4 linked regions of the Homo sapiens genome follow. The protein of the gene in region 2 purifies or fractionates together with the protein of the main gene of each other region. This does not show direct contact. Each region holds a gene or a part of one and is shown on either strand. Other genes may lie near its edges.

The links. Proteins that work in one complex are often made in the same cells at the same time.
Region 1: the proteins of YKT6 (region 2) and C1QL1 purify together in Homo sapiens (affinity purification with mass spectrometry; 2 studies listed by BioGRID and IntAct, with this or other methods). This does not show direct contact.
Region 3: the proteins of YKT6 (region 2) and TAGLN3 fractionate together in Homo sapiens (co-fractionation; one large-scale study listed by BioGRID). This does not show direct contact.
Region 4: the proteins of YKT6 (region 2) and NAPA purify together in Homo sapiens (affinity purification with mass spectrometry; 2 studies listed by BioGRID and IntAct, with this or other methods). This does not show direct contact.

What each region holds. Positions count from the first base shown.
Region 1 is NC_000017.11:44,959,073-44,962,259, forward strand, and holds the end of C1QL1 (C1q-related factor precursor), read right to left. Parts: intron 1,296-3,187; coding exon 1,116-1,295; 3' UTR 621-1,115; downstream 1-620. UniProt on the Homo sapiens protein: May regulate the number of excitatory synapses that are formed on hippocampus neurons. Has no effect on inhibitory synapses.
Region 2 is NC_000007.14:44,203,878-44,207,508, reverse strand, and holds part of YKT6 (synaptobrevin homolog YKT6), read right to left. Parts: intron 2,942-3,631; coding exon 2,859-2,941; intron 1,125-2,858; coding exon 1,024-1,124; intron 122-1,023; coding exon 17-121; intron 1-16. UniProt on the Homo sapiens protein: Vesicular soluble NSF attachment protein receptor (v-SNARE) mediating vesicle docking and fusion to a specific acceptor cellular compartment. Functions in endoplasmic reticulum to Golgi transport; as part of a SNARE complex composed of GOSR1, GOSR2 and STX5.
Region 3 is NC_000003.12:111,997,731-112,001,841, reverse strand, and holds the start of TAGLN3 (transgelin-3), read right to left. Parts: upstream 2,921-4,111; 5' UTR 2,728-2,920; intron 2,596-2,727; exon of another isoform or gene 2,422-2,595; 5' UTR 2,420-2,421; coding exon 2,240-2,419; intron 1,071-2,239; coding exon 896-1,070; intron 1-895.
Region 4 is NC_000019.10:47,501,444-47,505,074, forward strand, and holds part of NAPA (alpha-soluble NSF attachment protein), read right to left. Parts: intron 2,060-3,631; coding exon 1,980-2,059; intron 155-1,979; exon of another isoform or gene 14-154; intron 1-13. UniProt on the Homo sapiens protein: Required for vesicular transport between the endoplasmic reticulum and the Golgi apparatus. Together with GNA12 promotes CDH5 localization to plasma membrane.

The DNA of each region.
Region 1 (3,187 bases), on a different chromosome or scaffold from region 2:
CTTGCCCAGGATCATACACGGTGGCCCAGAGCCGGACCTAGGTCTCCCTGTTTAAAGATCACCTGTGCCTGTGGAATGCTGATGCCACTTTCAGCGAGGCTCCCGCCTGTAATCCCAGCACTTTGGGAGGCTGAGGCAGGCGGATCATGAGGTCAGGAGATTGAGACCAGCCTGGCCAACATGGTGAAACCCCATCTCTACTAAAAATACAAAAATTAGCTGGGCGTGGTGGTGTGCGCCTGTATTCCCAGCTACTCGGGAGGCTGAGGCAGGAGAATCGCTTGAACCCGGGAGGCGGAGGTTGCAGGGAGCCGAGATCTTGCCATTGCACTCCAGCCTGGCAACAGAGCGAGACTCCGTCTAAAAAAAAAAAAAAAAAAAAAAGGAATGTGTCCACCATGGAAGATGATGAAGTAACTGGGCTGCTTCCCATCCCAGCTGCCCAGGCCCACTTGGGTTGTGGTGGGCTTTAGGCCCTTTGGCAACTTCTTCTTGGAGTAGCTCTGGCTCTGGCACCTGGTTTCCCCTAGAAACTTCCACCAGACCCCTTCCTAATCTGGAGGAGGGCACGGTCCACCGTCGCCTCCCGCAGCCCTCCCCAGGGCACAGACTGAAACCCCTGCGGGGTGAAAATGTTTTTATTATAACTTTGGTCAGACGGGGCACAGCCGGGCGGGGGCTCTGAGGGTGCTGGGAAGCTATCCAGCCCCCAACTCCCCCCTCCCCCGGGCGCGCCACCCCGGAGGGAGCGGAGGGCAGCTCATCTCAGAGCGCAGGAAGCAAACCCGCCGCCGCGACCTCTCCCCAGGCTGGGGTGGGCTGGCAGGCGGAGGTGGGCAGTAAACAGTCCTATTGTACAAATATATAGCGCGGGCTGGGCGGGGGCGGTCAACCCCGGTTCCCTGGCACGGGGACAGGGCGCGCTGGGCCCGGCTCTGCAGCGAGCCGGTGGGAGGGCCTAGCTGTGGCCCAGGCGGTGTTGAGCACGGGCCGGGGGCGTCATAGCCGGGGAGGGCCGGGCAGCGAGCGGGTGGGCGAGGGGCGAGTCATCGTCTGCCCCGCCCGGAGGGGACCCCGGCGGGTGAGGGACGTGGGTGGAGGGAGACGTGGGGAGCTCAGTCGGAGTAGATGATGAAGCCAGAGAACGTGCTGTATTTGTTGCTGTTGCCGCCGTGTGCTTTGCCTCCATCCAGCTTGATGAAGACCTCGTCGCCGGCGTCCAGGTGCAGGATCACGCTGTTGCTGGCGTAGTCGTAGTTCTGGTCCGCGTCCTGGGCAATAGCACTGGCCCGCACCTGCGGGTGGGGGACACGGGAGGGAGGGCGAGAGGAGAGAGAGGATGAGAAGGGAGGGAGGTGAGGCAGTCCCGTGGGGGAGGATCAGCAGACCCAGAAACCTGGCCTCCAGCCTCGCCTCATCCCTGCCACGCTCCCCCTCCCCCGCCCCCTTCCAATCATACAGGACTTGTTTCAGGAAAGGGGCAGAGAGGATCCCTGGATTTCTAGGGCAGGTCTGATCTGGGCCTGAATTGGGAGTCAAGGCAGAGTCTTCCTCCTTAACTCTTATAGGGCTTTCCCTCCAGCTGGCTGAGAACCTCAATACCTCCAGGAAGCCTGGAAGCCTGTCCTTGCAAAGAGGAATTCTCTGGACCTCCAGGGAATGGAGGGCCTTCCCTACTCTCATCATTCCTTCCTCTCTGCTTTCATAATGATGCCATCGTTTCAGCCACACCCGCTGGATCTTATGTCAGTGGATGGACACAAGGGCACACCTTGGCCCCACAGGTCAGGCAGCTGGACCAATGCCAGGCTGCCAGTCAGCAACCACCCTGGAACCAGGGCCAGGTCTTTGGTCTGAAGTGCATTCCAGAGTCTCTCCTGCTGCAGCAGTGAGACAGAAGGCCTGGTAATGCTTTCCCCTCCCAGAGTTTAGAAGGGGCCTGGGTGCCAGCCTCCATGGAGCTGTAGCTATGTACCTGTCACTACCCACCCAAAGAGGATTGTAGCTCCTCCTGTCTCACCTCAGGGTGGTAGAAAGGAACTGGGTGGGAAGAAGGGAATCCAGGCCTTACTTCCCTCTGGGATTCTCAGTCTGATGTGACATCCTTGCTGGTCCCTGCCTTGATGGGGGATGGGGAGGGACAGGCAGGATAATGGGTCAAGGGAGCACCAGCATTTGGGCTTGGAGCCTGCCGTCACTTTTGGGGGCTCTGACTATAATCATAAGAGATTGTGTGGTGGCTGCATACGGTGGCTCATGCCTGTGATCCCAGCACTTTGGGAGGCCCAGGCAGGTGGATCATTTGAGGTCAGGAGTTCGAGAACAGCCTGGCCAATATGGTGAGACCCCCATCTCTACTAAAAATACAAAAATTAGCTAGGCATAGTGGCACGCCTGTAATCCCAGCTCCTGGGGAGGCTGAGGCAGGAGAATCACTTGAACCTGGGAAATGGAGGCTGCAGTGAGCCGAGATCATGCCACTGCGCTCCAGCCTGGGCGACATAGTGAGACTCAGTCTCAAAAAAAAAAAAAGGCCAGGCGCGGTGGCTCACGCCTGTAATCCCAGCACTTTGGGAGGCCGAGGCGGGTGGATCATGAGGTCAGGAGATCGAGACCATCCTGGCTAACAAGGTGAAACCCCGTCTCTACTAAAAATACAAAAAATTAGCCGGGCGCGGTGGCGGGCGCCTGTAGTCCCAGCTACTGGGGAGGCTGAGGCAGGAGAATGGCGTGAACCCGGGAAGCGGAGCTTGCAGTGAGCCGAGATTGCGCCACTGCAGTCCGCAGTCCGGCCTGGGCGACAGAGCGAGACTCCGTCTCAAAAAAAAAAAAAAAAAAAGAGAGAGAGAGAGAGAGAGAGAGATTGTGTGGTGGTGAACGAATGATCTACAGACATTCAGCTAACAGGTATGGAAACATAAGTCCTGAGTTTGAGGATCGGGGCCTCTCCAGGGTATCCTGGGTAGAGACATGGAAGAGAAGCGCCCTCTCCAGGACTGTGGCTTGTGGTGTGGGGAGGCTGCACTGAGTGGAGTTCTCTCAGCCAGGTTTCTCCACGGCCCCTCTCTATCCTGTCCCTTCACTGAAGGCAGCTTACCATCCCAACTCCCAGGGCTGAAGTCTGGGTAGAACCAAGCCAAATTAGGGGAGGGGCCCATCCTCTCTCCTGGGCTGGAGGCAGCACTGC
Region 2 (3,631 bases):
CTTCCTTTAACCCTACCTGGTATCTACTGAGGTGACCATCCAGGGCTGGGTAATGGATTGTAGCAGGGGATCCTACTGGCCAGTCTATCCTGTCGACTTGCTTGGAGAATTCATCTAGTACCTGCAAGACAAAGGAGACTCAACAAGCCTCCCACTGTGCACTCACCAGTGGTCTCAATGACAGGGCTTCACCCCTGAGCACCTCACCCTGAATGAGGCTCCTTGGCCTTCACAGCCCAGGAAGGAGGAATGAGGGGGACATATAATGGCAACAGAGAAAATCTAGGCTAAAGTTCTTTCCAAATTTTTATCATTAAAACATATCCTAAATATTCTGAGAATCAAAAGTATGCCCAGCCCGAGATGAACCTCACTTGGGGAGTAATAAAGGTATTTGAATTTTAAACTACAGATTTCCAGAAAAAAGGGGCACTGGTCCTCTAATTTTCCAAAGCAATTTTTTAAAAAAGAGAATTAGGTCCCCTAGATTTAAGAAACCACCAGATTCCATGTGTTTGGAGGTATTTTGGTGCTCTGGGGTATAGGATGAAGCCTCTGACTTCAAAGAGTTAATATTAGTAATTAGCACCGTACGCAAAAAAATTTAAAGAATGCTTAGGTGCTAAGCTCTGTGGTGCAACTGACTGACATCAAGGTAGAGGGATGCAGCAACTGCAGGAGGCAATGGGGAGAGTGAAGGCATTCAAGAGGGAGACTCCTTGAGCAGAAGCACAGGGGGCGAGAACACAAGGCACAGCTGTCTCCGAGGGTCCCATCCCAGAGAATAGATGCTATGACTCAGTGGCCTAGACCCAGCTCACATGAGGGACAGCACCGGGGAGGAAACCCATACAGGGATGCCAAATTGTCTCTTGGGTTGCAGGGAAGGGGGCTGAAAAATGTGTTGACTTTGGACACATCATTTCATCCCTTATGTCTCAGGGACTGCCATCAACCCCTGTCCCAGTCCATAAATGTGCCCATTCATCATCCAAGTCCAGGAGAGGCAAATAAAAAACTCACCTTCTCCAGCAAGGTAAAGGCCACCCGGGATGGGTATTCATTGTCAGCAATGACCACACCTGCAAGACTATCATTCCGGACGTAGACGTGGCACAGATAGTCTAAGGAGACAAGAGATCAGACACATGGATGCTGACATGAGGGCTTCAGACTTCTTTTAATCCCCCCAAATCAAAGCATCCAATGTTAGGCCAAATGAAGCCACTCGGAAGCTCAATAGCTCTGGGCAAGTCTTGTGGAGAGGCTTAGCAGCACAGCCCAATGGGCCACACACAGGAGCTTGGCCCAACGCCTGCTTTAGGACCAGTAAATACCCAGAGGCCCAGTATGCAAAGCCAGGGCTTAAAGAAACAGCCAGTGGTGCAGAAAACACACCCTTGACAACATGGCCCCAGGAGCATTTCCAAGTGTATTCCTTAAGCTCGGGTCAGGCCAAGCTATATCTTAGGGATCTGGAGCCCTTGGGGCTCTGTGCTGCTCCCAAACTTAGGGAACCCTGGACAAGCCAAGAGGCCTCTGCTTTCTTAAAAAATCTTTTCAGAGCAGCCAAAAGACAGGAAATTACCCCCCAGGGCCTCAGTCTTCCATATTATAGCAACCTGCTGGGTTTGCTCCACTCTGGTGGGTGACTGGGAGTAGGGGGGTTAGTCTAGAAAAAGATTAGCTACTGCCAGCTAAGGCCTCCAGAGCACTGTGCTAAAATCCTCATATGATTGAAAGGTACAGTTGTACAGGTCTTCCGCAAAATATTCACAATCCACAGGATTGTTCATTTCCATCACTTTGAAAGGATTCAGAGTTGATACAGCTAACCATATCCCCAAGGAAAGAGAAATGTAAGGATTACAGCTTACAAATAAGAACCTTCTTGTCCTTAAGGATCTGACCCAGAAGATTCCAATGCTAAACAACAGAAAAACAAATAAAAGAGGAGGGAATGATGGTGAGCCCCTGAAATCAGAAAAGAGCAGAGATAAATGAGAACAAGAATGAGGAGGAGGAAGAGGACAGGGGGTTGTCACCAATGCTCTCCAGATTTTGTATACCATCCCCAATTAAGATTCAAACATGGGGTCAAAGTGCATACCCTCCAAAGAAACTGAGAACCTGGTCAGTGGAGGAATTGTCTTTAAGTAATAAACGTGGGAAGGGCAGGCACAGTTTGAAGAACAGAGCAAGAACACTGAAATATTTGTGATGCGATTTCACTTCTATGATGTTAATAGCACAGAGATCCCACATAAAGTGTATATAGTCAATCCTGCCTGTATCATAACTGACATTTATATCATCAATTCAGTAACTCTATGTCACGTGACTTGAGGTTAGCATAAGTGTGAGATGATCTTTGTCCCTACCTGATGAAACTCATGTAACTCTTTCCTGATCTGTCTGTATAACATACACATCTAAATAAATGCCTAAACCTGAATTATCAGAAAGAAAAAATAGTTTTTTCAGATTCCTGATCAAAAAATCTACGATGCACAGAATACATATAGTACCTCAACAGTGCTAGCTGGAAATCCTTTTTTGAGGGGTCTGCAACTCTGAAGAGGATAGGGAAGAATACGATATGAAGGCTGCTTACTGCTCCAAAAGAGTCAGACCCTAATCTTAAATGAGTCTAAGTTTGAGGGCAATTTTATCTGGGAAGCTCAGACTTCAACAGTGGGCACAGAATTCTGCATAAATAGGAAAAGGAAGAGGTGGGAAAGAGAGAACAAGCTAGAGGAGGAGTAGGGTCCCAGTAGAAAGGAGAAAGCTGGGTGCTATGTGAGGTGAGGCATGGCAGCCAGGCCAGCACACGCACAGAAGTTGGAGGGTCTTCTTACCTTGTTCTTTGACAGAAGCTCTAGTGCCTTTCGATGAGCGCTCCACAATCAGTTGACTCGTGAAGGTCATGAATTCCTGAACGCTAAGAAACACAAAATGTATTTATTGCCTACTTCTTATCACCTTGTCCCCAACACAGTGGAAAGTGACCTCTGGGCTTATACATTAAGTAGACATTGCTTCTTGGTTTCATTCCTTTCCCTCCCATCCCTAGTAACAAACACTCTATAAATGAGCACAAATACTGATAATTATGAATTATCATCACCATGAAAGCTCCATCTGTTTGCTACCTGGCTCACCAAAACAGGTGAATTTTCTGGGGGGTTTTTCCACAGGATACAGTCAATTTTACATTTTGGTGAATGCATAATTTGGAATGCAATGGAAAAACAAGAGGCAGGTCCTGCTCTCAAGGTCCCAATAACTTCCAAGAAGCAGGACATTTATAAGAACTGCACTAGAAGAATAGTGTGCAAAAACTGTCAGGCAGAAATGCACAACCATTTATGGCTGTGTCCACATGACAGACCCTCGCAATGCCACATACACCCATAGTGAGTGCTGGCTCAGGTCTGCTGGGGCTCGTCCACAGAACGAGCGCAAGACACTCTGGATGGAACAAAAGGAAAACTGCTCATCCAAGACAAAGAAGTGGGAAATGGCTCATACAAAGGGTGAAAGGGAGAAGGTCCATCATGGGCTCAACAGAGAGATCTATCCAGAACAGAACAGTCACAGGAGATGGTACAGCCAGAGGAAGAGGTGCTGA
Region 3 (4,111 bases), on a different chromosome or scaffold from region 2:
GAAAGCTACCCCATTCTCACTCTCAGCAGAGCCATTTGGGTCACTGCCCTGGGGATCCTGTTGGTTGGGCCACTAATGACAGCCAGTGACAAAGAGCATGTGAGAGCAGAGTCAATCTGACAGTCCTGCTCTGACTAGTTGGTATCTCTTGGTGCCTCAGGCAGGCCTAGTGGAGAAGGAACACAGTCATATGGTTGGGTATACACATTTTCGCTAAAGGGGACATTAACGACACCATGACCATAGGTCCCAAATTCTCTGGCAGTGTCTCCATTCACATCATTTCCCCCAGTAATGGCAGATCATTAAATACATCCAGGAGTGTGATTTGATTTTTATGCTTTTGTAAGATTTCCTCAGCAAGTCAATTCACAAATGTGAAGGAAACAAGCACTTGTCACACTGAGCAGAATGCATATCTGGAAGGCATAGTCACCAAGCTCCCAGATAAAGGTTTAACAAAAGGTTGGAGTGCTATCTATTTCTCAGATTGACAAAATAGCCCCAGATGGCTTTGTCTATAAGCTGCAGTTGAGCAAGAAGCACACTGGCCCCCTGCCTCCCTTCTCCTCTGGTAGCTGTGATTTGTTATGGGAGTGGTAAGAGGAATAAAAGGCAGTATGTCACCGTTAGCTTCCTCTAGCTTGAGGCTTCTGTTTACATTAGTTGCTGAGATCCCCTCTGTGTCCTCAGGGTGTGTGTTCCATTAGAAGAGGGTACCTCCTTTTAATAGAACATAACAATGGGGAAGGCAAACACTGCCCCCAGGATAACAGCTGAGAGCATCTTACACACATCAATCGGCACAGGGAAGAACACTGTGAGCAGTTTTTACAAGGAGATGGGGCAAAGGAGAGAAGAAAAGAACAATCCCAAAGGCCAGGGGGCTGTTTACCTTCCCATAGATCCACCGTCTGAAAGATGTCGGTGGTTCTGACACCATAGGTCTCCGCAGCTTTTAGGAACTGGGAGATTTGCTCCATCTGCTTAAAAGCCATCTTTGACTCTGAGATCTTGGGTATGGGCTCTTGTCCTGGTGGGTATAAACTATTTATCAGCTTGCACAGGACCTGAAGAGGGAGGGGAGAGACAGAATCAATGTTTCCCTTTGTATTTACAGGTCAAGAATGAGAAGTGAATCCTGCTCACGTGGGACACTGCTCATCCAGTTTGGGCAGGAGCAAGTCATGGGCCCTAGGAAGGCACGGGCTCTGGGCTGTGTAGCCAGGCTCCTATACTAAGCCCCAAAGACCCAGAGGACCCCATTCCTAATGCTGCTCCTTACTACAGAGATTCCTGTAGCCTGGGAGCGCCATTCCCTCCCTGTTCCTCCCTTCCTTTTTCTGGATGAGGGAAAGGATGTTTACAGATAGGGAATGATGTGACGTGATGAGGACGTGATTCTAGACTTTCAAAGGAGGAATGACTTAGTGGCTCCTGAGGTTGGCAGAGCTCAAATGATAGAGTCTAATATTATTTCTTCTATCAAAAGGCAAATTAAGCAGGCTTCAATTTACTCATCCCATATATTTTAACAATGTGTAAAAGAAGTGGATGTGGTACCTTTTTCCCAGATATATATATATAACCCAAGCTCTGGGCAACCCAGCAGAAGCATTGGATAGCAGTTATGTAACAGTAAATCACAGACTGCAGGAAAGGATGGGCTTGTTTGAATCACAGAGCCTGCGGCCCTCAAACCCTCAAACACACACGAGCATTTGGTCAGAAATGCAGTTAACAAATAAGGACTCCTTTCAGTTTCATGAGAACGCATCCACTCAATAAACAGACACTGAACACTTCCAGGGTGCATGGCTCCCACAAGAATGTGAAGGTGGCTAGTCCCCCTCCTCCCTTCTTTGTTTTACTGTGTAACCAACACGATCCCCTAGGGAAAGAAATGGCCCCAGAAGAGCTGATGCACCAGGAAGGCTGGGGAAATTACAAGGACATACTTATCTCTATTCTCATTAGAAAAATCAAAAGGGCTTCGAATTTGCCAACTCAGAAGGGAGATGTAATGCTAGGGTGAGTGGAGAACCCCCAAGCTAGCTAGGGAATAGTGCATGGAGCCCAAATCTTCCAACCCTGAAGAAATAAAGGCATTCTCATCCCCTCCCGGTGAGACATAGAGCTTGGCAACAGCAGCTCTTCCCGCAGCCTTACGTTAAAAGAAAGGGCCCTGGAGGGTTTCCCTGCCCACCGCCCCAGCAACCGAGATCGCTGCCGGCCTTACCGTCCCGTCCATTAACCATTTCTGAAAATGGGCCCTGCCGGGGGGCGGGTGCTCTATGTCCTCGGCGCACTGCAGGATGATCCAGTCCACCAGCTTGTTCTCCAGGTCCGCATCATACTTCTGCTCGATCTTCTCCTGCACCTCTCGGCTTAAGCCATAGCTCGGGCCCCTGTTAGCCATCTCTGGAAAGAAGAGAAGACACGCGCGGCATCCACACAATAGCAGCAGCAGCAGCCTCCGGCTCCCTGCAGACGGGGCTGGGATATGGCTGGGCAACCTGGCCCAGCAGCAGCAAAGAGGGCAGAAAGCCGGGCGTGGTTTAAATCAAGGAGCCAATGAAGCCAATGGGGTTTCACCTACAAACGGGAAAGAAAAGCACAGCTACCCGCCAGTAACTCTAGAATAAACCTCCGGCCGGTCCAGGGGGGCTGGAATCCCCCTCCCTATCCCGCCTATCAATGAGACCAGATGATATAACACGGACTCACAATCAAGTCTGAACCCCCAGGCAGCAAGGGGGATGGGTGGCGGACGTTTCTTCCCCCTTCTCAGTAGCACTTTGCAAAGGCAGAAACGATGAGATCGGGAAGAGCAGGTAATTAGCAGGCAGGGAGGAAGCCTCCTTTCATGTTGAACTGCAGCCGCTGCTGCCTCGCGCCTGGAAGAATGGCACATTGATTTGATTTTCTCATGGCTGAGGGGGCTCAACCAGGGCCGTTGCTAAGAGCCCTCCAAAAAGCCAGCCCTCTCCTGTGTCAATCAAGCCCGCCTGCCTCCCTCCCGCTGAGAGCCTCTTTCTCATCTGCACAATTCTTTCCCTCTTCTGGGGAGACAGCCGATTGTCTACGAGGCCAGCAGCTGCACAAGGGGATGAGGGCCTGTGGGAGGGTCCGTTCTACCAACTGTCCATCTGTCGGGAATAGCCAAGCTACTTTCCCCCTGCCCTGAGGTAACAACTGTCTGGCAGGACAGGAGGGGAGGGACTGAGAGCTGCTATCATTTACTTGTTCAGCTGCCAGCCCAACTTCACCCAGAAACTTCCATCCTGAAACTGTTGTGCCTCAGTTTGACTTATTCAAGGGAGGTATTTTTTTCATGCTACTCTTAACTGAAAGACACTAAGAACAAGTTTTATAAATTATTATTATAATTCTTACTATATATTTTTAGACAGAGTCTCGCTCTGTTGCCCAGGCTGGAGTGCAGTGGCACAATCTCGGCTGGCTGCAACCTCTGCCTCCTGGGTTCAAGCGATTCTCCTGCCTCAGCCTCCCAGGTAGCTAGGATTACAGGTGTGTGCCACCAGGCCTGGCTAATTTTTGTATTTTTAGTGGAGATGGGGTTTTGCCACGTTGGTCAGGCTGGTCTTGAACTCCTGACCTCAGGTGATCTGACTGCCTCGGCCTCCCAAAGTTCTGGGATTACAGGCATGAGCCACCACGCCCGGCAAGTTTTATAAATTAAACAAAACTCAACGACTAAGAACTCTTAGAGTGAAAGGTTTTGATAGAATGTAAAGACTTCATCTGAAGTAAGGACCGTGAAGGCACAACCGACATATTGTCAGAAGTAACTGAATATTTCTCATGGGCAAACAAGCACTCAGGAGAAACCATTAGCTCTAAGTTGGCCCCACATTTTTATAACAGCTAAAGGGCTTGGCAGTTTGTCCTCCTAGACTGTAAGCCATTTGTGGGTAAAGATTGAGTCTCATTGGTGTTGTGTAATTCTCTGGGTGTTTTTCATGAGAAAAATTCCACATTTTTTTTCGTTTGGTTCATTTCTTCATTCAACAGATATTTACTGAGTGTTTATGCCAACTACTGGACTGAGGAGGAATAAAATACAATTCTTGCATTGAAAACAGATTGA
Region 4 (3,631 bases), on a different chromosome or scaffold from region 2:
CCCTTCACTGCAGATCCCCATGGACAAGGCACTTGCATGAATTGTGAGGCTCATGGAGTTGGGGTCGGACAACACAGAGCCGGCTCCCTCCAGGAGCTGCATGTCCAGAGAGGGAAACAGGATGTGGACAGCAAGAATGAATACATGCAGACCAGTGCCCATGGGCGGAGGGCAGAAGAGACCGTGCCTGAAGCCTCATCCATCCTGTGCTCATCTGCACACGGTCAGCTTCTGTGGGTCCCAAGCCATTCTGCCCACACATCTCCTAACTGACGTTTGGGAGGCAGCAGCATCTCTCCTCCTCCTCGTGCAGCTGACCACCTCCAGCTCAGCTCTGAGGCTTCTCCCCTTCATTCTCCTCCAGCTGAATCTGAGTCAGAGTTTCTAAGCTGGAAGAGGACCAGGAGGCCTGGCCCTATCCTCTTAAGTTTTGAGCAGCAGAAAAGACAAAGCCTTCCGGGTTTTCACTATATGATTTCATTATTTTCAAGAGTTCCAAATTTGAGTATAAAATTACGGCCAGGCGCGGTGGCTCATGCCTGTAATCCCAGCACTTTGGGAGGCCGAGGTGGGCGGATCACGAGATCAGGAGATGGAGACCATCCTGGACAACATGGTAAAACTCTGTCTCTACTAAAAATACAAAAATAAGCTGGGCGTAGTGGCACGTGCCTGTAATCCCAGCTAGTCAAGAGGCTGAGGCAGGAGAATCACTTGAACCAGGGAGGCGGAGGTTGCAGTGAGCCAAGATCGCGCCACTGCACTCCAGCCTGGCAACAGAGCAAGACTGTCTCAAAAAAAAAAAAAAAAAAAAAAAAAAAAAAATTTCAAGAAAAGGGGATATTACCGGGGGGAAATGGCCTAGGGCTTTTCTTTGAAGAGTTTGGGGGCAGAGGTAACAAATTTTAGGGGAAAAGCAACACCTATGTAATTAAAAAATAAGCTTTTTTTCTCTAGAGGAATTTTCTAAGTTTGGGAGCATAAAAATACAAAAAACATTTGGCTTTATTCACAACGTATTTTGTGAAAACTCAGGAATAACTCTTTGAATTTTGGGGAAACCAACAACATTCTCAAAAACGATGATAATCAATTTTATTGTGCACCTCTGCACCCTGCCTCCATGGTCCCACCACCAGGTTCCCTCTCCTCCACAGTCAGAAGTTCCTCCCTGCATTCAAACACTGGGTCTCTTGCCGTATTTCCTTAATTCAATCTTGGTGACATGAAAGATGTATGATGAAATGAGCCTCGAAAGGGCTCAACACACTGGCTTGTTGGACTTCTTGGGCCTGCAGGGAGCTCCAAACAGATCTCCAGCCTCCCTGAGCCCAAGGGGCTCCTCCCCACCCCTCTCCTCTGTGAAGCTATCCTGCCTCACTGGGGCAGGTTAAACACTCAGGCTCTGCAGTCAGAGCCTTGGTTTCTGAATCTTGGTTCTGTCACTTACTAGTTCTGGCATCCTGGGCAAGAGACTAAGCCAAGCCTCAGTTTCCAAATCTGTAAAATAGGGATATTTATAGACTGACCCTTAGGGCTGCTGTGCTAACGCAATTAAATGATGAGCACTTAGGACTCAACAAACAGCAGCCATGATTCACGTTGTTATTGGAATCACCTGAACATCCTCCCCCAGCCTAGAATTTAGACACTGATGGAAGCACTAAGGAAGTTACCAGGAAACCTGAAGTTCTGAATTTAAGGAGGACTCTAAGAGCTCATCAATCCACATGGGTTTATCTAGGTCTAATAATCTATTTATTCCCATCCTCTCTGTCCTTTCACCAAGGCCCCATGACCCAGAGTATAAAGTAACCCAGCAGGCACAAAACAAGAGAGCAGGCCAGTGGCTTTCCGATGCCGGAGAGGGCATACAAAGAGAAAGGGCCCTCAAGGCCAACCTCTCGGGCAGGCCTGTGTGAGTGGAAGCTGAGGGAGGAGGAGAGCACCTTGGAGGAGCTCTAGCGGAGATGACATACCACTCCAGTTTTTGGCCATTTTGAACATGTTTGCTGCTCTGGCGTAGATTTCGCATGCTTCCTCTATTTTGGATGAGCCTCTGGGGAAAAAGGAAAGAAAAAAAGGAGACAATCTAGTCGGCTATCCAGGAGAAAGCAAGCATTCTGCTCCAGTGCCGGGCACAGACGTGCCCCTACCCCTCACCCTTCACCTGTGAAGCCAGCTTCCCCCAGGCCTCTTGAGTCTGTGGCCCCCGCCCCTGCATACAATGGCACACTCACTTCGGGCAGACCAGCTCCCTCCGGGAGTACTGGGGTAGATACTGGGTGCTTGCTGGGGTAGTGGGGCGAAGAGTTCCTGACCCCACCACAACCCCAGGGTCTGACAGCCTCTTCTACTTCCTGCCTGGGATACTAGGGGCCCACTGGGTCCCAGGCGCGCTACAAATCCCCTTTCCCCGGGAGACTGCAAAGCATTCTGGGGGACTAGCCCAGTTTAAGACATCGTGTTGCTTTCGCAGAGGCAGCCTTAATCCTGTGCCTTGCACTCTGTGGTTGCTCAATAAAGACCTTGCAGCCCTGGAGTGTGTCATTACCAGCTCAGGACTGGGCATATATATCACACAGCCATACAAAGAAATGGGAAGCACTATTTTAAAGTGTAGATATAAGATGTTCCCATTTGTGTTTAAAAAAAAAAGAGGGTGGGCTGGGTGTGGTGGTTCATGGCTCCTGTAATCCCAACACTTTGGGAGGCCAAGGTTGGCGGATTGCTTGAGCTCAAGAGTTCGAGACCAGCCTGGGCCACACGGCAAAACCCCAACTCTACAAAAAATACAAAAAATTAGCAGGGTGTGATGGTGCACGCCTGTAGTCCTAGCTACTAGAGAGGCTGATGTGGGAGGATCACTTGAGCCTGGGAGGCAGAGGTTGCAGTAAGCCAAGATCACACCATTGAACTCCAGCCTGGACGACGACAGAGCCAGACCTTGTCTCAAAAAAAAAAAAAAAAAAAAAAAGAGAAAGAGAGTGAAAATAATAGAAACATACATGTTTATATAAACATAGGATATTTCTGGGCAAATACACAAAAACCTAGTAACAGCATTTTTCTCTTAAGGTGAAGCCTGCAGAAGGAGGGCCAGGTGTGGGAGGCAGACTTATTCACTGGACATCCCGTATTTGTACTGTCTGAATTTTTTTTTAACTGTTTGTACATCTTTTCGAGAAAAAAAATATATACATATATACACACACGTGTACATATATACACATGTGTATATATGTGTATGTGTATATATGTGTGTATATATCTATACATTTACACATACACAGACACACACACACACATATTTTTAAGTATTAGGATTTATATTTGGCCCTGTGGTCCAGCAATGAATTACATCTCTAGCAATTTATCCTAAAAAAACTAATCAGAAAAGTTACAAGGATGTTCAGCATAGCATTATTTAAAACAGCAAAACCCCCCAAAAACTTATTGTCCAACAGTAGGGATACACTGGGAGATAGACAGGAATTTGAAAACATAAAGGGTACCCTGTTTGGGCAGCTTCACTCTGGCTTCTTGACCTCCACATGTACATAATGAGCCTCCTCTTGACTTGGGGGACCTCATTAGTACCTCAAACCCGTAAGTCCCACTGCATTCTTCT